2 linked regions of the Homo sapiens genome follow. The protein of the gene in region 1 interacts with the protein of each later gene in a pairwise test. Each region holds a gene or a part of one and is shown on either strand. Other genes may lie near its edges. The genes, in order: SHISA5 and DESI1.

Region 1 (7,634 bases):
AGAGATGGGGTTTCACCATGTTGCCCAGACTGGTCTTGAACTCCTGACCTCATGTGATCCACCCGCCTCAGCCTCCCAAAGTGCTGGGATTACAGGCATCAGCCACTGCACCCATCCGATTTCTTTTTTAACTGACAAAAATTGTATATATTTATAGCGTACAAAAATGATGTTTTGAAATATGTATATATTGAATGGCTAAATTGAGGTAATTAGCATATGCATTACTTCACGTACTTACCTTTTTTTGTGGTGAGAACACTCAAAATCTACTTCCTTAGCAATTTTCAAGTATACAACATATTATTATAAACTATAGTCACCATTATGATGTACAATAGATCTCTTGAACTTACTCCTCCTAAGTGAAATTTTGTGTCCTTTGACCAACATCTCCCTAATCCTGCCACCTCCTAGTCTCCGGTTACCACCATTTTATTCTGTTTCTATGAGTTTGACTTTGACACTCCACATATAAGTGAGATGGTGCTGTATTTGTCTTTCTGCGCCTAGCTTATTTCACTTAACATAATGTTCTCCAGGTACATCCATGTCATCATAAATGACAGGATTTCTGGATTTCCTTTTTTTTTTTTTTTTTGAGATGGAGTTTCACTCTGTTGCCAGGCTAGAGTGCAGTGGCATGATCTCAGCTCACTGCAACCTCCGCCTCCCGAGTTCAAGGGATTCTCCTGCCTCAGCCTCCAGAGTAGCTGGGATTACAGGCGTGCACCACCACCAGCTAATTTTTGTATTTTTAGTAGAAACGTGGTTTCACCATGTTGGCCAGGATGGTCTCGATCTCCTGACCTCGTGATCCACCCCCCCTTGGCCTCCCAAAGTGCTGGGATTACAGGCGTGAGCCACTGCACCCAGCCAATTTCCTTCTTTTTAAGGCTGAATAGTATTTCGCTGTGTACATATACCACATTTTCTTTATCCATTTATCCTGATGGACAGGTAGATTGATTGCATACTTTGGCTATTGTGATAATGCTGCAATGAACAAGGGAGAGCAGGTATCTCTTTGGGGTATGGATTTCATATCCTTTGGATATATACGCAGTGATGGGATGGCTGGATCATATGCACATGGTAGCTCTATTTTTAATTTTTGGGGGACCCTCCTACTTTTTTCCATGACAATGATTTATATCTGGTCTAGCATGTTGTATACATGAAATGTATACATCTGTTAAAACTCATCAAACTGAAACATGAAAGATCTGTGCATTTTACTGTATGTAATTATATATCTATTTTTTTTTCTTTTTAGAGACTGAGTCTTGCTATGTTGCCCAGGCTAGCCTCCAACTCCTGGGCTCAAGCGATCCTCCTACCTCAGCCTCCCAAAGTGCTGGGATTACAGGTGTGAGCCACTCCACCTAGCCTATATCTCAATATTTTGAAAAAGATTTATAATCCAAGTTTTGAAGAGGATGTAGAGCAAACTGGAACCCTCACATATGGCTGGTGGGAGTACAAATGGCACATTTATAACATGTTGGAAAGCTGTTTGGAAGTTATCTGCCTAAACTGAACACATTCACATAATAACTTAGTAATTCCACTCCTAGATACATACCCAGAAAAAATATGTTCCTTTTACGACGCTTTTTTTTTTTTTTTAATAGAGAGGGAGTCTCGCTCTGTCACCCAGGCTGGAGTGAAGTGGCTCAAAAAAAAAAAAAAATTGATTGCTTGTTCAGTGGGTGGGGAGAAACTCCCATACATTTGGTCACAGAAATCTTGTGTTGATTGTTCTGGTGTGAGAGAATAGAAGAAGCACTCTGAGTTTTTTTTTCCACTTTTTTCGGGGGCAGGGATGGAGTCTCTCTCTCTGTTGCCCAGGCTAGAGTACAGTGACACAATATCAGCTCACTGCAACCTCCGCCTCCTGGGTTCAAGCCATTCTCATGCCTCACCCTCCCAAGTGGCTAAGACTACAGGTGCATGCCACCACGCCTGGCTAATTTTTGTATTTTTTAGTAGAGACAGGGTTTCACTGTGTTGGCCAGCCTGATCTCGAACTCCAGACCTCGTGATCTGCCCACCTCAGCCTTCCAAAGTGTTGGGATTACAGGCGTGAGCCACCACACCCAAACAGTTTTCCACATTTATGTATCAATAAACAATTAGAAAATAAAAATTGTGGCCGGGTGCAGTGGCTCACACCTGTAATCCCAGAACTTTGGGAGGCCAAGGAGGGCAGATCACTTGAGGTCAGGAGTTCAAGAGCAGACTAACCAACATGGTAAAACCCCATCTCAACTAAAAATACAAAAATTAGGCCGGGCGCAGTGGCTCAAGCCTGTAATCCCAGCACTTTGGGAGGCCGAGGCAGGCGGATCACAAGGTCAGGCGTTCGAGACCAGCCTGGCCAACATGGTGAAACCCCATCTCTGCTAAAAAAAAAAAATGCAAAGATTAGCTGGGCATGGAGGCGTTCCCCTGTAATCCCAGCTACTCAAGAGGCTGAGGCAGGAGAATCACTTGAACCCGGGAAGCGGAGGTTGCAGTGAGCCGAGATTGTGCCACTGTACTCCAGCCTGGGCAACAGAGTGCGACTCCGTCAAAAAAAAAAATACAAAAATTAGGCCGGGTGCAGTGGCTCATGCCTGTAATCCCAGCACTTTGGGAGGCCGAGGCAGGTGGTTCACAAGGTCAGGAGATCGAGACCATCCTGGCTAACATGGTGAAACCCCGTCTCTACTAAAAATAATACAAAAAATTAGCCAGGCGTGGTGGCAGGTGCCTGTAGTCCCGGCTACATGGGAGGCTGAGGCGGATGGATCACCTGAGGTCGGGAGCTCGAGACCAGCCTGGCCAACATGATGAAACCCCGTCTCTACTAAAAATACAAAAAAATTTAGCTGGGCGAGGTGGCAGGCCCCTGTAATCCCAGCTACTTGGGAGGCTGAGGCAGTAGAATCGCTTGAACCCGGGAGGCAGAGGTTGCAGTAAGCCGTGATCACGCCATCACACTCCAATCTGGGGACAAGAGCTAGACTTCGTCTCAAAAAAAAAAAGAAAAGAAATTTAAACTACACTATTTATAATACCATAAAAAAAAACAAAGGAAAAAATGAAACATATATAAGACTTTGAAATAGAAAAAATATTATATAATAGAAAATTGAGAGAGAAGGAAAGAAAACTAAATACAAGAGCAGAAATACCATGTTAATGCATTGGAAAACTCAATATAGTAAAATGTCAATTCCACAGAAATGGCCAGGTGTGGTGGCTCACACCTGTGATCCCAGCACTTTGGGAGGCTGAGGCGGGTGGATCACCTGAGGCCAAGAGTTTGAGACCAGCCTGGGTAATCTGGTGAAACCCCATCTCTATTAAAAATACAAAAAACTTAGCTGGGTGTGGTGGCAGGCACCTGTAATTCCAGCTACTCTGGAGGCTGAGGCAGGGGAATCACTTGAACCCAGGAGGCAGAGGTTGCAGTGAGCCGAGATCATGCCATTGTTCTCCAGTCTGCTGTCTGTCTTGCTACTTCTTGTGGGGTTAACGGTCTTAAGGCTTCCAGAACAAGTTTTTTTTTTTTTTTTTTTTTGACGGAGTCTCGCTCTGTCACCCAGGCTGGAGTGCAGTGGCATGATCTTGGCTCACTGCAACCTCCGCCTCCTGGGTTCAAGCAATTCTCTGCCTCAGGCTCCTGAGTAGCTGGGATTACAGGCACCCACCACCATGCCCAGCTAATTTTTGTATTTTTAGTAGAGATGGGGTTTCCCCATCTTGGCCAGGCAGGTCTTGATCTCCTGACCTCGTGACCCACCCGCCTCAGCCTCCCAAAGTGCTGGGATTACAGGTGTGAGCCACCGCACCCGGCCAGAAAAAAACAATCTTAAAAAGCAATCGGAGGGTTAAAAAAAAAGAGGGATTTCAGCTAGGTGCACCTGTAATCTCAGCACTTTGGGAGGTCGAGGTGGGAGGATCACTTGAGCCCAGGAGTTTAAGACAAGCCTGGGCAACATAGGGAGACCCTGTCTCTACAAAAAGTAAACAAAATTAGCCAGGCATGGTGGCAGGCACCTGTAATCCCAGCTACTTGGAAAGCTGAGGTAGGAGGATATGCTTCAGCCCAGGAGGCTGAGAGTGACATGAGCCAGTGACTGCACCACTGCACTCCAGCCTGGGCAACAGAGTGAGACTGTCTCAAAAAAAAAAAAGAAGAGAGAGAGAGAGATTTCTTTCAATGAGAGACACTGGCTGTTGAGTTGATGTCTCAACAGAAACAATGGAAGCCGGGAGACAGTAGAATGGAAGCTTCAATATGCTAAGAAAAAATAACCATCAACCTAAGCTCTATACTCACATAAAATAGTGTTTTAGAGAGTAATATAATTTACCATATTAACAGAATAAAAATTTTAAAATCATACAGTCATCTCTACAAATGCACAAAAAGCATTTGACATAATTCAACATCCATCCATAATTAAAACTCTAGGTGTACTAGAAATGCAGAGAACTTCCTCAACCTGATAAAGGACACCTATGAAAAAGCCACAGCTGACATCCTTCCTACTAGTGAAAAACTGAATGTCTTCCCCCTAAACTCGGAAACAAGACACAGATGTCTGCTTTCTCCACTTCTACTCAACATTGTAACTGAGGGCCTAGCCAACACAATAAGGCAAGAAAAAGAAATAAGACATTCAGAATAGGAAAGAAGGCTGGGGGCAGTGGCTCATGCCTGTAATTCTAGCACTTTGGGAGTCCGAGGCAGACAGATTGCCTGAGCTCAGTAGTTCGAGACCAACCTGGGCAACACAGTGAAACCCTGTCTCTACTAAAATACAAAAAATTAGCCAGGCGTGGCAGCATGCACTTGTGGTCCCAGCTACATGGGAAGCTGAGGCAGGATAATTGCTTGAACCTGGCAGGTGGAGGTTGCCGTGAGATGAGATCACGCGCCACTGCACTCCAGCCTGGGAGACACAGACTGTCTCCAGAAAGAAAAAAAAAAAAAAAAAAAAGACAGAATGGAAAAGAAGAAGTAACAGTCGAAGAAAAATATGGCGTAAAAACAAATCGAAACAATACAGGAAGTAAAAAAAGGATAATGCATACGGGCGCGGTGGCTCACGCCTGTAATCCCAGCACTTTGGGAGGCCGAGGCAGGAGGATCACCTGAGGTCGGGAGTTCAAGACCAGCCTGGCCAACACGGTGAAACCCTGTCTCTACTAAAAAATACAAAATTAGCCGGGCGTGGTGGCACATGCCTGTAATCCCAGCTACTCAGGAGGCTGAGGCAGGAGAATTGTTTGAACTCAGGAGGTGGAGGTTGTGGTGAGCCAAGAACACACCATTGCACTCCAGCCTGGGCAACAAGAACGAAACTCCATCTCAAAAAAAAAAAAAAAAAAGATAATGCAGGAGAGACAAATAGCACAAAAGATGCAAATATAACCCCAGAATATCAATAACTACATTAAATTAATTAATTAATTTATTTTTGAGTCGAGGTCTCACTCTGTTGCCCAGGCTGGAGTGCAGTGGCACCAATCACGACTTACTGCAGTCTCAACCTGCTAGGTTCAAGTGATCCTCCTACCTCAGCTTCCCAAAGTACTGGGCTTACAGGCATGAGCCACAGCAACCCCCGGCCCTCTACATTAAATTTAAATGGAATAAATGCTCCTGCTTTTAAAAAAAGAAATACCATCAGGCGCGGTGGCTCATGCCTGTTATCCCAGCACTTTGGCAGGCCAAGATGGGCAGATCACCTGAGGTCAGGAGTTCAAGACCAGCTTGGTGAACATGGTGAAACCCCATCTCTAGTAAAAATACAAAAATTAGGCCGGGCGTGGTGGCGGGCGCCTGTAGTTCCAGCTACTTGGGAGGCTGAGGTAGGAGAATGGCGTGAACCTGGGAGGCGGAGCTTGCAGTGAGCCAAGATCGCACCACCACATTCCAGCCTGCAGCCTGGGTGACAGAGCGAGACTCTGTCTAAAAAAAAAAAAATACAAAAATACAAAAATTAGCCAGGTGTGGTGGTGCACGCCTATAATCCCAGCTACTCGGGAGGCTGAGGCAGGAGAATTGCTTGAACCCGGGAGGCGGAGGTTGCGGTGAGCCGAGATCACATTATTGCACTCCAACCTGGGCAACAGAAGTGAGACTCCGTCTCAAAAAAAAAAAAAAAAAAAAAGCCAAAAGGTGAAGTGAAAGGGTGAAAGGGTAGAAGAAGACCTGTCAGGAACCCTCAGGCAGGACTGACAGGTGTGCAGCCCTGTGCACCACTCCCAAGAGCACCTGGAAGTCCTTAGTGGATAACTGTGTGCATCTATGACATGGCAACTCCACAACCAGATGTGTTTCCAAGAGAATTCTTACACAGCTCCATAAAAGGAGGTATACCAGATGCCCACTGAAGCTATCTATCATGACAACCATTGTGGATTCACACCATTCAGAGGGACACAGCAGTAGTGGGCAAGGGCCAGATGTGCCACAGCAATGTGGCTAGGTCTTACACTACACCGACTTTGCAAGAACTCAAATAATGAAAAGGATGTACCTTATACATAGCAGACCATAGCAGACGGTTGCCTGTGGGGTGGGAAAGGAATGAAATGGTCCTGACATATTAAAGTAAATATATAGGCCAGGCATGGTGGTGCACACCTATAGTTCCAGCTACTCAGGAGGCTGAGGGAGGAGGATGGCTTGAGCCCAGGAGTATGAGACCAGCCTGGGCAACATGGTGAGACTCCATCTCACAAAAATAAATATGTAAGATAGCGGGGGTTGGTCTTGCCCAGACCCAGGATGATCACCTGCCATGAGCAGAGGAGTATGACCATCTCAACCCTCTACACCGAGGCCAAACACAAAGGAAATACAGAATACGGCAAAGAGCCACACACAGGGGCCTGGAACCTTGGTCCCAGCCATGAAACAGTCTACACCCAACATGCAGGTAAATTCATAGGCTGCGCTGGGAGGACACAGATAGAGCTCACACTGGGGCACATGCTTACGCACTGCACCCTACAGGCTCCACAAGCGGGTTCTGAACAAAGGATACCCCTCAGGGGCATGCGCATACTGTGGGGTATAGTCAAGCCCAAGTACCCACCCTGAGGACATCTTGGCACAGGTACACACCCGGGGTGAGTCACAGGACCAGCTGAGGCCAAGGACCTCTAAGAAACCTGCTCAGCCCAAGGCTCAGCAAGCTGGAGCCCTCAGGGTAGGGAGGAGATGGACAGGGGACTAACTGAGCAGGTCTAGGGGGTCCAGCCCAGAACAGGGGATCCCTAAACCCTCTGCTCCAATGCTCTGGCCACCATCTTGAGAGGGCTGAGAGGCCAGAGGGGCAGAGCTATCTCTCTTCCACATACTCTCCTGTGGGGCACAGGCTCAAGCCACCCACCCTGTGACCCACTGGTGCACCCACCTGGCCTCAGGCACAGCACACCTTTCCTCGCTCCACACAAATTTCTTCAGCACGTCAGAGCAGCAGTATTGGTCATCACAGGTACCACAGCAGAAATCTGGACAGGACTCGGGGAAGAGGCTGAGTCCACGGGAAGCCATACACACCTCACCACGTGCTGGAGAGGAGAAACACATCTGTTCACCTGTGCCCACGGGCCAGGCCCCAGCAGAC
Region 2 (7,634 bases), on another chromosome or scaffold:
TGAGATGGCGCCATTGTACTCCAGCCTGGGTGAAAAGAGCGAAACTCTGTCTCAAAAAAAAAAAAAAGACCACAAGTGGATAGAGGGATCCTAGCCAGGGGTTTCTGGGGATAGCACCCTAAAGAATGTGAGGCAGGTTCTGACCTTATCCAAACTGAGGTGAAATTTCACAGTGGTTGATGAGAACCAGACTGGATGCCAAAGGGGAGTGGTAATCCATTTAGGACGAGCATCTTCAAACCCTGGGTTCCACTGGGCTATAAGATACTAAATCTCCTCTTTCCTGTTTACTATATGTAAAATGGGGAGACTAACATTCCTTTTTTTGAGACAGAGTCTCACTCTATTGCCTAGGTTGGAGTGCAGTGGCACGATCTTGGCTCACTGCAACCTCCGCCTCCTGGGCTCAAGCAATTCTGGTGCCTCAGACTCCCAAGTACAGGCTGGGATTACAGGTGTGCGCCACCATGCCCAGCTAATTTCTGTATTTTTAGTAGAGATTGGGTTTCACCATGTTGCCCAGGCTGGTCTCGAACTCCTGACCTCAGGAGATCTGCCCTCCTCAGCCTCCCAAAGTACTGGGATTACAGGTGTGAGCCACTCTATGTGGCCTAACACTGCATTTTAAATAGAGCTGATGTGCCCTTCTGAACTGTCATTTATAAATCAGCTGTTTAAATGGCTGCAATTTGTTTATTTACGTGAAGACATTTAATAGTTCAGTGAAACTGGAGAAATTAAGGATACCTGCTTTCTCTTACCTGTTCCTTCTTTTTTTTTTTTTTTTTTTTTGAGACAGTCTCACTCTGTTGCCCAGGCTGGAGTACGATGGTGTGATCTTGGCTGACTGTAACCTCCGCCTCCCAGGTTCAAGTGATTCTCCTGCCTCAGCCTCCTAAGTAGCTGGGACTACAGGCGCTCACCACCACGCCTGGCTAATTTTTCTATTTTTAGTAGATATGGGGTTTCACCATGTTGGCCAGGCTGGTCTTAAACTCCTGACCTCGTGATCCGCCCGCCTCGGCCTCCCAAAGTGCTGGGATTACAGGCGTGAGCTACCGCGCCTGGCCCCTGTTCCTTTCAAATGAAGCTTTTCTCATTTACTTTGTGAGGAATGCTACGCTTACAAGGAGGAAGTACAATATAGTGAATAAGAACACAGGTTCTGGTGTAGACAGGTTGGGTGTGAATCCTACTGGCTTAAACGGTGAACTAATGGTTTATTGAGTGACTACTACCTTCCAGGCACTATCCTTGGCACTAAGGATACATCAGTAAACAAAAACCTCCTTCATGACACTTACTAGGTGGGGGGAGGGGACAGTCAATAATAATAATGATGATAATAAGTCATAACATGTTAGCAATAGTGAATGGTATAGAACGAACAAGAGTAGGTTAAGGGGGTCTGGGCGTAGTGGCTCACGCCTGTAATCCGAGCGCTTTGGGAGGCAGAGGCGGGCGGATCACCTGAGGTCAGGAGTTCGAGACCAGCCTGGCCAACATGGTGAAACCCCATCTCTACTAAAAGTACAAAAATTAGCCAGGCATGGTGGCACACACCTGTAATTCTAGCTACTCGGGAGGCTGAGACAGAAGAATCACTTGAACCCGGGAGGTGTTGCAGTGAGCTGCGATTGCACCACTGCACTCCAGCCTGGGCGACAAGAACAAAACTCTTGTCTCAAAAAAAGAAAAAAAAAAAAAAGAGTAGGTTAAGGGAGTTTCAGGGATGATCAGGGTGGGCCTCTTTGAGAATGTGATATTTGAGTGAAGATTTTTTTTTTTTTTTTGAGACAGGGTCTTGCTCTGCTACTCAGGGTGGAGTGCAGTAACGCGATCAAAGCTCACTGCAGCCTTGACCTCCCAGGCTCAAGTGATCCTCCCACTTCAGCTTCCCAGTTGCTGAGACTATATGTGTACCACCCAGGCCTACTTTTTTTTTTTTTTTTTTGAGACGGCGTCTCCCTATGTTGTCAAGCCTGGACTTGAACTACTGGGCTCAAGTGATCCTCCCACCTCCAGGCGTGAGCCACCAGGCCCAGCTTTGAGCCAAGATTTAAAGGAGGCAAGGGAAAGAGGGATGCAGGGGCAATGACATGCCAGGTTTATCTGAAGGCCTGTAAGGAGGCCAGTGAAGTTAGAATGGGTGAGGAGGGGAAGTAGAAGATGACCAGAGGTAATGGAGGACCAGATCACAGAGAACACTGCAGAGGCTGAGAACACTAAGCCTGAGCTGTCCAATATGGTGACCACTGACCACATGTGGCTATTTAAGTTAAATAAATGCACAAATTCAGTCCCTCAGTTCCACTAACCACATTTTAGGTATTCAATAGCCACATGTGACTAGTGTTTACTTACTGGACAGTGCAGATCTAGAACATTTCCATCACTGCAGAAAGTTCTATTGGACGCACTGTTTAAACTATAGTTTCCTATTCTGTAAAAAAAAGCATAATAACACTGCCTGCCTCATAACATTTCCAGGATTAAAAGAGACGATACATGACACATGCGTAGCACAGGGTCTGGGACATAATACATGCCCAATAAAGGCTAACTCATTTCTTCTAGGGTTTATAATTTGAAAGTTTTATAGTTGTTCTCATAGTACCCTGGTATTGAAACTATTCACGTGTCCTTCTCCCCAGTTAGACTACAGTTGCCTCAGTAACCAGGACAGTTTCTTATGTATCTTTATAACTCCAGCACCTAGCAAAGGACCTGGTCCTGAGATGTGACATGAACATCTGTTGAGATGAGCTGTTCTGTTTAGTTAGCTTTGTTGGTTGACACACAGTGCTATTGAGGACAAAGTTCCTAACCCCAATCTGGGCTGCCTGGCTTGTTATTGCAATGACTCTGCCACCCTGGCATACTGCACTCCCAGTCTACTGCTGTCTTCTCAGATGCGCATGCTCACTGACTCAGGAGTACAGCTGGCAGGTATGGATGTATCATCAGCTCAAACCCATTCCTACTAAACAGATTTTTGAAGAGGGGCCTCAGTTATTTCACACCTGAAAAACAACTCAAAAGTTGCAGGATACAAACCCTACTTTATTCTCCTTTATATCCTTTGTATCATCACTGAATTTGCCTGTAAGCTACACGCCACACTTCCTATTCAACTGCATCAAGGTACACTTAGGATCTCATCCATTCATAGAGTGGAGATAGGGACTATAGAAAAAAGATCCCCTTATTTATTCATTCTTTCTTTTTTTTTTTAAGACGGAGTCTCGCTCTGTTGTCCAGGCTGGGGTGCAGCGGTGCAATCATGGCTCACTACAACCCCCGCCTCCCGGGTTCAAGCAATTCTCCTGCCTCAGCCTCCCGAGTAGCTGGGATTACAGGAGCTCGCCACCATGCCCGGCTAATTTTTTGTATTTTTAGTAGAGACGGGGTTTCTCCATGCTGGCCAGGCTGGTCTCAAACTCCTGACCTTGTGATCTACCCGCCTCGGTCTCCCAAAGTGCAGGGATTACAGGGGTTAACCACTGCACCCAGCCTGTTCATTCTTTCACTTATTCATTCATCCACCAAACACTTGGAGCCAACAATAACATTAAAAATGAATTGAGTGAATTTACATCCTTTCTTTTTTCCTTTTGAGACAGAGTCTCACTTTGTTTCCCAGGCTGGAGTGCAGTGGCGTGATCTCGGCTCACTGCAACCTCCGTCTCCGGGGTTCAAGTGATTCTTCTGCCTCAGCCTCCCAAGTAGCTGGGATTATAGGTGTGAGCTACTGTGCCCGGCCTACATCCTTTTTTTTTTTTGAGATGGAGTCTCACTCTATCACCCAGGCTGAAGTGCAGTGGCATGATCTCGGCTCACTGCAACCTCTGCCCTCCGAGTTCAAGCGATTCTCCTGCCTCAGCTTCCCGAGTAGCTGGGATTACAGGCATGCGCCACCGTGCCCAGTTAATTTTTGTATTTTTAGTAGAGATGGGGTTTCACTATCTTGGCCAGGCTGGTCTTAAACTCCTGACCTCAGGTGATCCACCCGCCTTGGCCTCCCAGAGTGCTGGGATTACAGGCATAAGCCACCTCACCCCACCTTGTTTTCTTCTTCTTTTTTTTTTTTTTAACAAAAAAGTTCCTTTTCACCTGTTTTCCACATGCATATCTGCAGAAGATTTCATTTCAAGGAAGAGTTTCACAGCTAAAGAGCATTTGAAAACCACTGGTCAGGCCACATGCAGTGGCTCACGCCTGTAATCCCAGCACTTTTGGAGGCTGAGGCGGGCGGATCACGAGGTCAGGAGATCAAGTCCATCCTGGCTAACATGGTGAAACCCCGTCTCTTCTAAAAAAAAATACAGGCCGGGCGCGGTGGCTCAAGCCTGTAATCCCAGCACTTCGGGAGGCCGAGGCGGGAGGATCACGAGGTCAGGAGATCGAGACCATCCCGGCTAACACGGTGAAACCCCGTCTCTACTAAAAATTAAAAAAAAAAAAAAAAAAAAAAAATTAGCCAGGCACGGTGGCGGGCGCCTGTAATCCCAGCTACTCAGCAGGCTGAGGCAGGAGAATGGCATGAACCTGGGAGGCACGCGCCACTGCACTCCAGCCTGGGCACACAACAAGACTCTGTCTCAAAAAAAAAAAGAAAATTTAAAAAAGCAGAATCACGCAGGGCCTTGTAAGCCATATTCCTTTCCATTTTGCCTTAAAGAAATTGAATGATTATTAAATTAATTCATTAGATGAGTATAAAACAGTTCACACAGTGAACAAAAATCAAAAACAAAGCACAATAGATGGCATTAAAACAGAAAAAACCTCTCTCAGATTTGAATAAATTTTACTTAATCTTCAAGCTTAAGTTCAAGTCTCAATCATTTCTATAATCAATACTTACTGAACACCTGCTCCAACAGGCCACTGGGGACATATAGGAAGGGGACAGAGTCCTTGCCCTCCAGGAGCTCCAGGCTCTTGCCAAAGCCTCTCTGACATGCTCAGCTCACCATGGCCTCTCTTATTTCAAAGCCTAACATAGTTCATGCACCACTCACTCACTTTGGCACCTAATCATAATCTGTTTTATATTGTTATCAAATGTTATATGTGTACATTCATTATTTAAAGGAAAATAATATTTTAAGAAAAACTCCTGGGCTGGGCATGGTGACTCATGCCTTACTTTGGGAGGGGGGTTTGTTCAGCATTTTGGGAAGCTAAGGTGGGTGGATCGCCTGAGATCAGGAGTTTGAGACCAGCCTGACCAACATGGTGGAACCCAGTCTCTATTAAAAATAGAAAAATTAGCTGGACATGGTGGCACATGTCTGTAATCCCAGCTCCTTGGGAGGCTGAGGCAGGAGAACTGCCTGAACCCAGGAGGCGGAGGTTGCAGTGAGCCGAGATCGTGTCATTACACTCCAGCCTGGGCAACAAGAGTGAAACTCTGCCTCAAAAAAAGAAAAATTCCTGGAGGACAGAGTTCACGTCATATCTTTTATTTCATTACTATTTGTACTACAAAATGAAGTAAAGAATTGAGTATAGTGTAAAATCTCTAATATTCATTAGAATTCATTCTGCCAAGCAATTTATATATTCTATGTCTCCAAATCTTTAAGTCTGAAAACAGTTTTGAAATGGGCTTGTAAAGAAAAATAAACGTGATGCATGTACACGAAACTTCTGATCAGAAAATAATAAACAAATATGAAGTACTTCTTACCACAATTAAAACACACACACACACACACACACACACACACACACACACACACTTCTGCATGTACTGTGGCACAAAAAGAGGTCAAGAAACTTAAAGAGCAGCCAAAATTATTAAGAGGAGGAACTGAAGGACACTTATAATAGCTAATTATTTTAGGCAATTGGTGACTATGAAAAAAGGTGCAATGAGGCTATCTGCTCAATTAGAATGCTGAAGATAATTTTGGGACCATTTTTCATAGTGAATGAAAAGCTATAGAACAGTAATGCCTTCACTTGAGGCAATTCCAGGAGGCTGAAAACAGGACAGGCTAAAACTACGGAATTTACATTGCTTCAGGAAAGGGGAATTACCTTGGGCTTTATCTAGTCTAATCCTGAACTGCGACAGAGCTAGATGAGGTCTCCCATTGGAGAACTGACATAACTGAAGCCTGAGAGGGTACTGCAGATGAGATCACATGGATTTAATTTGGGAAAATGGAGACTAAGAGGCATGATCATAAATCTAGATTGTAAGTGGCACATACACATTGAACCCAGCTTTTTTTCTCATCCAAACTTGAAACATTTGGCAAAGGATGCCTTTACAAACTTCAGGAAGGCATCTACTTTACTTCAATTTTAAAGGAACGTATTACACAGAGGTGGTATCTCAAAATGACAGAGAACGCGAGCTCTGGAAGTCAGACTGCCTGTGTTCATAACCCAGCTCTACCACCTAGTAGCTCTGGGACCTGGGGCAAATTCCTTAACACTCTACTTCTCAGGTTCTTCAATCAAGAAAATGGAGGCAATAACAGGACTTATCTCACAAAGTTGTGGTGAGGATTATAATGCACGCAAAGTACTCAGAAAAAAAGGGTCTGACACATGGTAAGCTCTCAATAAATAGTGGCTATTAATATACTTCTAGAATTCATCATAAAAATCAGGAAACAAATTGATTTTTTAAAGGTTCAAATGTATTTAGGAATGGGAAATCAATATATGGCTACTTATAGCACTGGGACATACCCAACTTCAAGATTTGTGTTGTCTGAATGGGATGAATCAGTAAGACCATGCCTATTTTCCTTAAGTGTTCAACTCTAGAAAGTAATGACTACTAGCTTTGCTAATTCTTTCTTCATTAATTTTGCAAAAGGTATAAAAGCAATATGGAAAAAAGAGGTAGAGAAGACAGAAGTAGATTAGCACACAAGGTGATTTCCTCAGATCAGAATCTGATGTGCCCAATGAATGGGTGATGTTCCCATGTTTGGCTGAGGCATTCCAGGACTTTACATCTATATAAAAGGGCGGGGAGTGGGAAGGGGGCAGGTCTATTACTCCATCTTCAGTTACAGCACTTTCCCCTTCACCCACTACACTCCACAAAAGCCTTCTTTCAGTTCCAGTATCAGGCCAGACTCTTTCCTGTCTCAGGGCTTTGGCAGGTTGATCTTTCTCCTACCTGGAACACTGTTACTCCCTTACTACCCTCCTGTGGCTACTTCTTCCTCATCCTAAATTCCCACTTTCAAAGTCACTACCCTTGATACCCTTATTTAAAATAGGTCTCTTCACTGGGTGCAGTGGCTCATGCCTGTAATCCTAGCACTTTGGGAGGCTGAGGCGGGCGGATCACTTGAGGTCAGGAGTTCAAGACCAGCCTGGCAAACATGGTGAAACCCTGTCTCTACTAAAAATATAAAAATCAGCCAGGTGTGGTGGCATGCGCCTGTAATCCCAGCTACTCTGGAGGCTGAGGCAGGAGAATCACTTGAACCTGGGAGGCAGAGGTTGCAGTGAGCTGAGATCACCCCACTGCACTCCAGCCTGGGCAACAGAGCAAGACTCGTCTAAAAAAAAAAAAAAGGTCTCTCTTGTTATTTTCTATCACAGCACCCAGTGTGCTTCCTGTGCAGAAGGCACTTATGCAATTTGTAACTAATTAT

The links.
Region 2: the proteins of SHISA5 (region 1) and DESI1 interact in binary tests that used the Homo sapiens proteins (3 or more experiments, as listed by UniProt).

Annotation. Positions count from the first base shown.
Region 1 is NC_000003.12:48,493,716-48,501,349, forward strand, and holds part of SHISA5 (protein shisa-5 isoform a precursor), read right to left. Parts: intron 7,579-7,634; coding exon 7,422-7,578; intron 1-7,421. UniProt on the Homo sapiens protein: Can induce apoptosis in a caspase-dependent manner and plays a role in p53/TP53-dependent apoptosis.
Region 2 is NC_000022.11:41,610,821-41,618,454, forward strand, and holds part of DESI1 (desumoylating isopeptidase 1), read right to left. Parts: intron 1-7,634. UniProt on the Homo sapiens protein: Protease which deconjugates SUMO1, SUMO2 and SUMO3 from some substrate proteins. Has isopeptidase but not SUMO-processing activity. Desumoylates ZBTB46. Collaborates with UBQLN4 in the export of ubiquitinated proteins from the nucleus to the cytoplasm.